Linked DNA regions of Homo sapiens: region 2 is linked to region 1. The links come from fine-mapping of genetic effects on gene expression. A gene starts in region 1. The other region holds a variant in brackets. All regions are shown on one strand. Distances are from middle to middle. Region 1 holds the start of MLXIP (MLX interacting protein). Region 2 overlaps MLXIP (MLX interacting protein).

Evidence for each region.
Region 2: its variant is fine-mapped to the expression of MLXIP in whole blood (TOPMed, PIP above 0.99).

Annotation. Positions count from the first base shown.
Region 1 is chr12:122,075,927-122,081,293 of GRCh38, reverse strand. It overlaps MLXIP (MLX interacting protein), which reads right to left and starts at 2,538. Exons shown (of 17, transcript NM_014938.6): 1 at 2,028-2,538. The coding sequence starts at 2,440. RefSeq lists enhancers at 39-88, 1,956-2,195, 4,263-4,312 and silencers at 2,256-2,705, 2,716-2,995.
Region 2 is chr12:122,130,775-122,136,141 of GRCh38, reverse strand. It overlaps MLXIP (MLX interacting protein), which reads right to left. Exons shown (of 17, transcript NM_014938.6): 7 at 5,209-5,298; 8 at 3,759-3,850; 9 at 2,155-2,794; 10 at 797-918; 11 at 476-653. Among named protein-coding and RNA genes, the nearest start is that of IL31, 41 kb to the left of the region's middle. The variant T/C (reference allele first, on the strand shown) is at 2,700.

The DNA.
Region 1 (5,367 bases):
CCCATCCGAGGGCCTGTGGTGGTAGACCTTAGGTGGCCGACCTTAGGCAGCAGGAGACCTTAGGCACAGGGAAAAGCAGCGAAAGTGAGAGAGCCAAGAGAGCAAGATAAGCTTCTTGCACCAAACTGATGGTGCATTTTGCAATCAAGAAAGTTAACTGAGCAACGGCCAGCTGCCAAAATATTTTTGAGAGAAATGAAAAAAAAAATGCCATTACTAAAATTATTTGGTGTTGTTTAATAAGCCTTTAGGTTATCCAAACAAGAGTGCAAAGGGGAGACTGATTTAGTTTTCATTTAGCAGAGCTTACTTAGGTGAGACCTTTCCAGTCCATGCCCCCCGTGACTCATCCATTCTCTCCCTGTATATGTAGAAGTTTATATTAAAATAAAGAAGAGGATTAAGTTTTCTTAATAAGATACATTCCAGTCTTTCACCTCGAGCTTTGTTTGAAAAGGCTCTCTCGAGGCATAGCATATGCTGCGATCCAGTCGGGTTTGATTCCAATGGAACTGCTCAAAATCAGAGACTGGAGGGCGCACAGGGCTGCAGCCTCAACACCATTTGTTTTTTAAAAAGCAGAACATCTTTACAGGCTCAGTGCCAGCTCAAACTGGCAAGACCAGAGAATCAGCAGAGACTGACCAATGTGCCGGGTAAGGGGGATGGGAGGAGGAGCTACGGGAACAGATCATCAGGGAAACCTTCAAGAGAGGAAATAGGGGTGTTTCAGGAACATAACAAAGAACAAGTTGACTAATCGTTTATTCCAGGGACCGCGGCGGTGAGGGGGGTGCCATCCAGGGCTAAGTATCTAATATTTTAACTTCAGGTAAAAGCATAACATTTAAACCTGGATATGCTTGGGGCTCACAGCTCTCTTAAAAAGGTGAGGTGAGAGGGGGCAAGATATTCCTGCTCTTTTATTACGCTGTTTATGGAGTCTCCTAGGAAACTTCTCCCGCGATGCCTCCAGAGCAGACCTAAGACAGCCCCCGCTAGTCCAGTTCCTAATGCAATAAGCTTAACTCAGCAGAGATCCCATCATGAGCTTTCTGCAGGGCCAAGCTGCTCAAGGCCGCTGCTGCCAGTCCAAAGAAGTTCTGTTGCGCAGACAAAAAAGTTACCTGCAGCAAATACCTAATATTCATAGTGGGAAAGGGAGAGAGAGTGAAAAAGCGCTTTAATCTTTGAGGGCCAGGCATTTTCTGTGACTTGGAAAAGAGGAATCTCTGCCCAGAGCCGAATCCACATGTCAGAACGGTGTCTGGGATGTCTGCCCTCAACAATGACATCTCCCTCATATAATGTTTCAGGACCGGCCAGAAAACCCTCCAACTTGCCAGAAGGACAGACTGCACCTCCAACAGCTGTGGCACCAAAAGTCTTCTTAGGAGGCACCCAAAGCCCTCCCGAGATGGGGGCGGGCCTCCCGATGAGGTTGTAAGGGGGCCAGCCTCCAGGTGCAGGGACACCTAACTCTGGCCAAGCACTGGAATAAGCAATTTACCTATCTCACTCCATCCCCACAACAGCCCCTTGGAGGCAGACACTACAGTCATTCCCCTTTTATAAAGGAGGAAACAGGCTCCGAGGTGTTACACAACCATTAAACAGCAGAGCCAGCCTCCAGTCACCCCGAACAGGTGGTCCTGACCGCTGCTGGATATGGGGGAAACACACAAAGCGTTTGGAGGAAGGAGTCGATAGAGTCGGGTAACACAAGATGCAGCCAGTGTTTATACCTCTTCCTCGTCCAACATCGGTGGTCCCAGGACACTGGAGGGGAGGGCCTGGATGGGGAACGTGAACCCGAAAGGACCCCGGCACTGCTGGCAGGGGAAGAGGCCAGGACCCCGGCTCCTCTGGCAACGCGGGGAACCCCAGATCCATAAACCCTCCCGAAGGAGGAAGACCCAAAGGGAATGCATGAAGCCACGGGGTTGCCAGGCGGCCCTTCCCTCCACGCTTGTTTTGTCAAACAAGGGCCTCCGGCCGGGGCCTCAGGGGGTCGCGGGGGTCCCTACCTGTAGGCCAAAGTCATGCACTCGAAGAGCTTGGTGAGCGAGGCGTCGATGGACAGGTGGCAGGAGCTAGTCTTGCCGAAGCTGTAGGTCTGGCACGTCTGTTTGTTGACCGTGTCGAAATCGTAGCCCTTCTTGGGCGGGTGCTCTCGGTGCGGCGACGACACCATGAAGTGGCCGCTGTGGATGATCTGCTGGCGGCGCGGAGGTTCCTCGCGGCCCGGCCCGGCCCGAGGCGGCGGTGGCGCGGCGCTCGCGTGGGCCCGGGCCGGGGTGGCCGCGCCGGAGGCGGGCGGCGGGGACGGCTCATCCGTGTCCGAGTCGTCGTCGTCCTCGGACACCTGGGGCTTGAGCAGCACCTGGCGGCCCCGGCTGCGAGGCCGGCGCGGGGAGCACATGAAGACGTCGGCGGCCATGAGAAGGGCTCGGCCGGGGGCATCCCCCGGAGCCCGGGGCAACGCGACAAGCGCGCGAGGCAGAGGGGCGCCGGCCCGGCCCGGCCCGCGCGCCGACTGTCCGCGAGCGCGCGGCGCGGCGGGAGGGGGAGGGCTCCGGCCCCGGCGTGACGTCACCGAGGCGTCTGGGCCAATCGGCTGCCCGCGTCGGCCTCTTAAAGGCGCAGGGGAACCTTTCCTTAGCTAGGCGGACCAAAAAAAAAAAAAAAGGGGAAGCGGAGGCCACGCCTCCCGGCCGTGCCCCTCGCCACCTCCTCCTCTCCCGGCGTCCGTGGGTGCTGAGGGACACGGTGGCCGGGCGGAGCGGCTCGCCGGTGTCGCGACCTGGGAGAGGCGTCGGCAGAGTGGGGCCGTGCTAGTCCCGCCCCCGCCCCGCTCCGCGCCCCGGGAGTCGCCCTGTGGCTTCGCCGCAGGCCCGGCCGGCTCCACGTGGTGGGTGCGGGTGGGGCTCCTCGGCCTCCAGGCCCTGCTTTTTCCCTGCCGGGCGGTACCGAGTCCTCGCAGCTCACGCCTGAGTTTGCCGGACGTGGTGGCTATTGTCCTCATTATTCTCATCGTATTGATGGGAACACTGGGTGGCTGAATACCGACAGGATTTTTCTCAGACCTGGAGTCCACAGAGCTGGGAACTTGCTTCCCCTGCGCGTCCCCAGCTCGGCGCAGCTGTTGAGTGGCAGCGCCCCTGAGCCCAGCGACCTCCAGACCCCAGCTCTTTTAACTTCAACTCAGCATGCTGTTGTTATTTTTTTAAAGTTTGACGGACGAGCCAGCCCCCGAAACAATTCTAAAAGGGGAGTATCTGAGCCAGAGTTTTCTTCTCTGTCAAATGGTGAACAATTCCGTTTCCTCAGAAACTTGGGACAGTTTAAAAATGGCTATAGTGGGGCGCGGTGGCTCATGCCTGTAATCCTAGCACTTTTGGAGGCCGAGGCGGGTGGATCACTTGAGGCCAGAAGTTCAAGACCAGCCAGGCCAACACGGTGAAACCCTGTCTCTACTAAAAATAACAAAAATTAGCCGGTCGTAGTGGTGCACCCCTGTAATCCCAGCTACTCGGGAGGCTGAGGCAGGAGAATCGCTTGAATCCGGGAGGTGGAGGTTGCAGTGAGCCGAGATTGCGCCATTGCACTCTAGCCTGGGCGACAGAGCGAGGCCCTGTCTCAAAAAGAAAAATAAATACAAATAAAAATGGCTATAAGTTGCTTAGCAGGCAGGCTGGCACAAAATGAGCGCTAAATAAATGTGCCACAGGTTGGAGGATTTGGATCAACCAGACCAGAGGTGCCTAGAAATTGCCAATAGTCCACCACTATTTGACCTGCAGAAACGGCAACTTCGCGTGGCACAACCTAACTGACAGACACCTCTAGAAAGCTGTCAAGGTTTCCGGGGCTCAAAGCCAGTCTGGGGTGGGGGTGGCAGGGCATCAGAAGAGCCAGTGAGGCCCATGAGCCAGGAACACCCATCCTAATCCTAGCAGGGCGTCCAGAGTCCACAGCCACTCCTGCACTCTGCTTTGTTTTATTGTTGTTTTGTTTTTTGAGACAGAGTCTTGCTCTGTCACCCAAGGCTGTAGCGCAGTGGTGCAATCACCATGTTGGCCAGGCCGGTCTGGAACTCCTGACCTCAAGTGAGGCCTGCCTTGGACTCCCAAAGTGCTGGGATGACAGGCATGAGCCACCGCGCTGGCTCTGCACTCGGCTTTGAAGCTGGTTTCAGTTCCAGATTTGAGTGGGGGGTGAGTCCCCTGCCCCACCCTCTTCCTGACAAAGGCCTCCTGAAGGGAACAGAGGGCTCTCACCAAAATGGCTCCATTAACTTATTTCCAAATGTCTGTATGGAAAAATGGGCTGGATGACTGGCAGTTTTCAGGCATGAGTTCTAGATTTCCCTCTTCAACCTACTACTGTTCCCAATGCTGGTTACAAGTGTTTAAAAGTCCATCCTTTGAGTTGCCTTCCTTTCTCTCAAGACTTGTCTCCTTGGTCCTTGGTAAGTTTACATGCCCAGCCACTTTTTTTTTTTTTTTTTTTTGAGACAGGATCTGGCTCTTTCACCTGGACTGGAGTGGAGTGGTGCCATCATGGCTCACAGCACCCTCAACCTCCAGGGCTCAGGTGATCCTCCCACCTCAACTTCCCAAGTAGCAGGACCACAGGTGCACACCACCGTGCCCTGCTAATTTTTGTACTTTTTATAGAGATGGGGTCTCGCCATGCTGCCCAGCCTGGTCTCGTCTCGAGTTCCTGACCTCAAGTGATCCTCCTGCCTCAGCCTCCCAAGGTGCTAGAATTACAGGTGTGAGCCACCATGCCCTGCTTTTTTGTCTTTGTGTTTACCTATATTTTCTTTCTTTTTTTTTTTTTTTGAGACAGGGTCTCACTGTGTCACATTGGTGTGATCGTGGCTCACTGTAGCCTCAACCTCCCCTGCCCAAGCTATCCTCCCACCTCAGTCTCCCGAGTAGCTGTGACCACAGGTGGGCACCACCACACCCAGCTAATGTTTAATTTTTTTGTAGAGATGGAATTTCCCTATGTTGCCCAGGCTGGTCTCAAACTCCTGGGCTCAGGCAATCCTCCTGCCTCAACCTCCCAAAATGCTGGGATTACAGGCATGAGCCACCACACCTGGCCTGTATTTTCTAATTTCCAAAATAAACATGTATTACTTATATACACATTTTTAACTTAAAAAGTTAACATCAGTTTCCTGGGAGGAAATAAGCCTTAAAGCTGAGGTTGCAAAGTGGCAACCCATAGACCATATTCAGTGCAGAAACATGCCTTGTTTAATCCCACCGTCAATTCCTAAGAGACTGTATTAGGGAAGACTCTTGGGGAAAATTGCAGTTAAAAATGCAAAAAGCAAAGGACCACTGCATGGGT
Region 2 (5,367 bases), 55 kb before region 1:
ATCTTGCCCCTGGATGGCCTAAGAGTGGACATGGGCCACAGACCTGTAGTGCTGAGACCTGCTGGGGAAGGCCACGTTGGTGCCCAGATGAGGCTGGACGGCTTCTGTGGCCACAGCAACCCCAGGCTGATGCTCCCAGAGACAGGAAGCCCAGGGCTCCTCAATCCCTTCTCTGGGTGAGATCAGCAGCTCAGTACCAGGCCTTCGTGGGCAGTCAGCAGGGACTCCCCGAGCACACGGGTCACCTACACTGCCACATGTTCACTACTTTTTGCCCTGCCAGTGCCACCACATTTCATCCTGCCACCCACAGAGCGTGTTCCCAGACTGTGTTATCAGCAGGCCTACAAGACCTCACTGTGTGTCCTAAGCCCAGGCTCCGTCCTGGGGACCCAGCAAGCACCCCCCATGGTCTACGGCAGGCCCAGTTACTTCCCTTGCGATGCCCCAACCATCCCGCCGAGTGAACACTCACTGGGCCCTGTGACAGTGACCTGGGGGCTGCCCCCATGCAGCGGGACCTGCTCGCCCTTCCCCAGGGGGTCTTGCGCTGTGCTTGGGAAGAGCCGGGAGACGGGGGCAGGCGGGCTGCTCGTGCCATGGCCGAGATCTGTCACCAGGATGCTGCTGTGGAACTCCGGGACCCCAGGAGCCTGCAGTGACATGGGAGACAGGTCACCCCTGACTGCTGATATACAGCAGGGCGGCACACCAGTCGTCTCAGGTGAGGGCCGCCCAAGATCAGAGTGCTCCGGGGTGAGAAGGACACTGCAGGTCTGCCTAGGGCCCTCCTCACCCTGGCGATGGCAGCAGGCGCAATGACCACGTTGGACTGGGACACGGTGGAGGCCAACATCCCTTCTCTCTTCAGAGGCCCTGACGTCATGATCACCGCTTGTGGTTGGCCTGAAAAGGCAGCTGCCAGGATAAGGAGGATGTTCAGGTGCAGCCCTGGGCCACAGGGCCTGGCCCACCCTGCAGAGGCTGCCTCTCTGCCAGTGAGACAGCTTGTTCTCAACCCCAGGGGACAGGAAGACAAAGCCACCAAGGCACCTAAAACCATTTGTGTGACTTCTTGAAGGAGACATGTTATAGACCCAGGAAAGAGATGGCCAGGACCATGTTTTCACACTGTAGGTTGTGACTAACTTTAAAAAAAAGATAGAGAGGCTGGGTGCAATGGCTCACATCTGTAATCCCAGCACCTTGGGAGGCCGAGGCAGGTGGATCACCAGAGGTCAGGAGTTCGAGACCAGCCTGGCCAATGTGGTGAAACCCCATCTCTACTGAAGATACAAAATTAGCCAGGTGTGGTGGCACATGCCTGTAATCTCAGCTACTCAGGAGGATGAGGCAGGAGAATCACTTGAACCCGGGAGGCAGAGGTTGCAGTGAGCCAAGATCATGTCATCTCACTCCAGCCTGGGCAATAACAGTGAAACTCCGTCTCAAAAAAAAAAAAAAGAGAATAGAGACTGGGTGTGGGGGCTCACACCTGTAATCCCAGCACTTTGGGAGGCCAAGGTGGGCAGATCGCCTGAGATCAGGAGTTCGAGACCAGCCTGGCCAACATGGTGAAACCCCATCTCTACTAAAAATACAAAAAATTAGCTGGGTGTAGTGATGGGCGCCTGTAATCCCAGCTAACTCGGGAGGCTGAGGCAGGAGAATCACTTGAACCCAGGAGGCGGAGGTTGCAGTGAGCCGAGATCACACCACTGCACTCCAGCTAGGCGACAGAGTGAGACTCCATCTCAAAAAACAAACAAACAAACAAAAATTAGCCGAGTATAGTGGCGCACACCTGTAATCCCAACTACTCGGGAGGCTGACGAAGGAGAATCGCTTGAACCCGGGAGGGGGCGGTTGCAGTGAGCCGAGATTATGCCACTGCACTCCAGCCTGGGCAACAGAGACTGTCTCAAAAAAAAAAAAACCAAACAAAAAAACAAAAAAGATAGAGCATAGAAAACGGACTAGATCATGGCCATGTATTATTTCATGACACTTTTGTTTCATTTAAGTGTATGTGTGTGCGCATGCACGTGCACACCAGGGTGGTGGTGGTGGTCACAAGTTTGAAAGCCTTTGGGATGGGAAAACATCCCTCTGGGTCGGGGGGAGCCCCGCACTGAGTCTCCCCGCCTGGCTCACCTGGGGCGATACGGGCATTCTTCAACACCAAGGACACGGGCTCTGGTTTGGGAGCAGGCACTATTTTGTGGGGCTGCTTAGGCCTGCCCCCAGTCAAGGATACAGGTTTGGGGTGCACAAAAGTTAACCGTGGCTGGGGAGGCCGGGTGACAGGAGACAGTGCCAGCCCACAAGGGGCCGCTGACGGGGCAGGGTGATGGGTGGTGATCACAAGGCCCTGACTCTGGCTAAAGGTGGTGGCGGGGGCATCGTGGGTGAGGGTGGCAGAGGCCGTGTGGGTGATGACAGACGGCGCTTTGTTGACTCCAGCAAACTTCTGTGGCTGATGGAAGGTGGGTGGAGCCGGGGGGTTCAGGGCAGTGGCAGGAGGAGGAACTAATGGTAACACGGGGGAGATGGGCGGTGGGGCGGGGCTGGGAGACAGCAGGGGCATGGTGAAGACAGGGAGGAAGGGCTGCGGGACACTCAGTGGCGGCTCTGAGGGACCGAAGTCCGTGGGCTGGATAAACGGGTCCTCAGTCCGGGAGGTGTGTTCACAGCCCTGC[T/C]CATCCATGTGAGCCAGGGATGGGGCGGTAGGGGGCGCGATGAGGCTGTCAGGAAGGCTCACAGTGGGGAGGGCTGTGGTCGGCAGGATGCTCTCCTGAAAAAGGAAGAAAGGAGCCAGGAAGCAATGCTGGGGTCAGACAATTCCTTTCTAGCGCTGCACACTGCCAAGTCCAACTACACAGGCCGGGCGCTGGGACAGAGGGACAAAGGCCACGTCTCCACGTCCATGGCTGCTGATCTGATAGGGATTTGTGTTTCCCTGCGTGTCTGCGGGGGTCTTGTTTCCATTAAAAACTAAATAACTCAGAGCTCAGATAAGGCAACGGCCCTCACACAGCTGGCTAGCAGCCTGGGAATATCTTGTTTCTGGAGTCCAGCAGAGTCTCCCCAAAGTCTCTGCCATCTTCTATTACTGAGCAGAGGCAGCCTGGATTGCAGCTGCTCGGGAATCCCCGAGGACAATTTCACGTGTCAACTGGTCATCAGGCCACCTCTTCCTAAATAAGAAAAGCTACGAGGAATCAATGGTTCAGATCCCAGTCTCTGCAGTAGCAATTCTTCCCGGAGCCCGTTTGAAGATGGTGCCAGGTTACCAGTGTCTAACTGGTCATGGGCATAAGCATGAGGGCTCCGTAAGGACAAAGAATGGTACCTCACTCAGCTCTGTAGCCCCAAGCACCTGTAAGCAACTTTTTGGATTGCTTAGTAAAACGTGAAAGAAATATACAGAAGTTATTTTTATTAGTAATCCATGTTTTTCTTCTCTGTCTAGCTAATTCTGTGTTAATTAGTCGGAGCAGAGCTAGCTGCACATAGGTTACCTGGCACTCAGGCAGAAGCACACCTGGACCAAGAGTCTCCCACCCCATGGGTGCTGAAGGATGCTGTAAAAGAGGGATGGAATCGTGCCTCTGCACATTAGTGCTGGTCTAGCACTGCTTGGCGCTTTGCTGGTGACTGTGTGGCTATGCCATTAGCCTTGCTCTGGCAGCAAACCTTTGATGAGCAGCCCTGTGCCTGCCAGCCCCTTCCCCCACCCATCCCCCAGCTTCCTCTACCTGTGCAGGTGGGTTGTTGGGATCTGGTACAGGTGCTGAGGCAGATGCAGGTAGCATGGAGCCAAAAATGGAGCGGCTAGAAGAGAAGAGGTCTGAAAAACAACAGCAGGGGTCTTCTGAGCTCAGTGTGCCCAGCATTTGCTGGAATCAAGACTCAAACAGGGCCAGGCACGGTGGCTCATGCCTGTAATCCCAGCACTTTGGGAGGCCGAGGTAGGCAGATCATGAGGTCAAGAGATCAAGACCATCCTGGCTAACATGGTGAAACTCCATCTCTACTAAAAATACAAAAATTAGCTGGGTGTAGTGGCACATGCCTGTAGTCCCAGCTACTCAGGAGGCTGAGGCAGGAGAATGGCTTGAACCCAGGAGGCAGGGGTTGCAGTGAGCTAAGATCGCACCACTGCACTCCAGCCTGATGACAGAGCGAGATTCCCGTCTCAAAAAAAAAAAAAAAAAAAAAAAAAAAAAGGTGCCAACCACAACCACCATGCCTGGTTGGTGCCACCAGTGGTCCCAACTACACAGGAGGCTGAAGCGGAAGGATCGCTTAAGTCCAGGAGGGAGGTTGAGGGTGCAGTGAGCCGTGTTCTTGCCACTGCACTCCAGCGTGGGCTACAGAGCAAGGCTCTGTCTCAAAATAACAAAGACTAAAACAGGCTGGGTGTGATGGCTTACACCTGTAATCCCAGCACTTTGGGAAGCAGAGGCAGGAGGATCACCTGGGCAACATAGCAGACCCCCGTCTTTACAAAAAAATGAAGAAATGAACTGGGTGTGGTGGTGTGTGCCTGTAGTCCCAGGTACTCAGGAGGCTGAGGTGGGAGGATCGCTTGAGCCCAGGAGTTCAGGGCTGCAGTGAACCATGATTGAACCACTGCACTCTAGCCTGGGTGACAGTGCAAGACCCTGTCTCTAAAAAAAAAAAAAAAAAAAAAAAAAGACTCAAACAAATCAAGGACTAAACCCCTAAACCCCACATGGCCCAGGGGGATGCCATGGACAGAGGGTATTACCCTGAGACACCTTTTTTTCTGTAGAAAGGGGGCTCTGGTTGGAACCACACATGTTGGCAACTATCCTGGGCTCTGAAACACTCCCAGGCCTGACGTTTCTGCTGCTGTCACAATGGCAGGTGCTCAAGGACCCATCTAACTGCAGGGCCTTGGTAGGGAGCTGGCTGTGTCATCAGTGCCCTCTGCTGCTTCGAGGGAGAACTGCTTACAGTCACGGCTAAATCCAGAGCCAATTTCCTTGCTGAACAATGTCCCAGAAAAACTTCCCAGACCTTGCAGTTACTACAAAAAACAGTTCAGTTTAAAAAAAAATTCTTTGCTCGCCCCCTTGCCCATTCTACCAAGTCTCGCCTCTTAAAGGAAGGCAGCGATCTGCTCTGTGCTGGGCTGGGGGAGATGGAGGCAACCGTGCTCTCTCTGCCTCTGGTCCTCACCCTGGAAAGGCTCAAAGGTGTCCATGAAGTCCAGGTTAGGCTGCAAAGGAATCAGTCCCGGCTGGATCATGTCTGCATTTCCCAGATGTGCTGCAAGAATCACAGAGAGAGGAACCATTTTGTCTTCTCAGACAATGTTGCAGGAACGTAAAAAAGGCC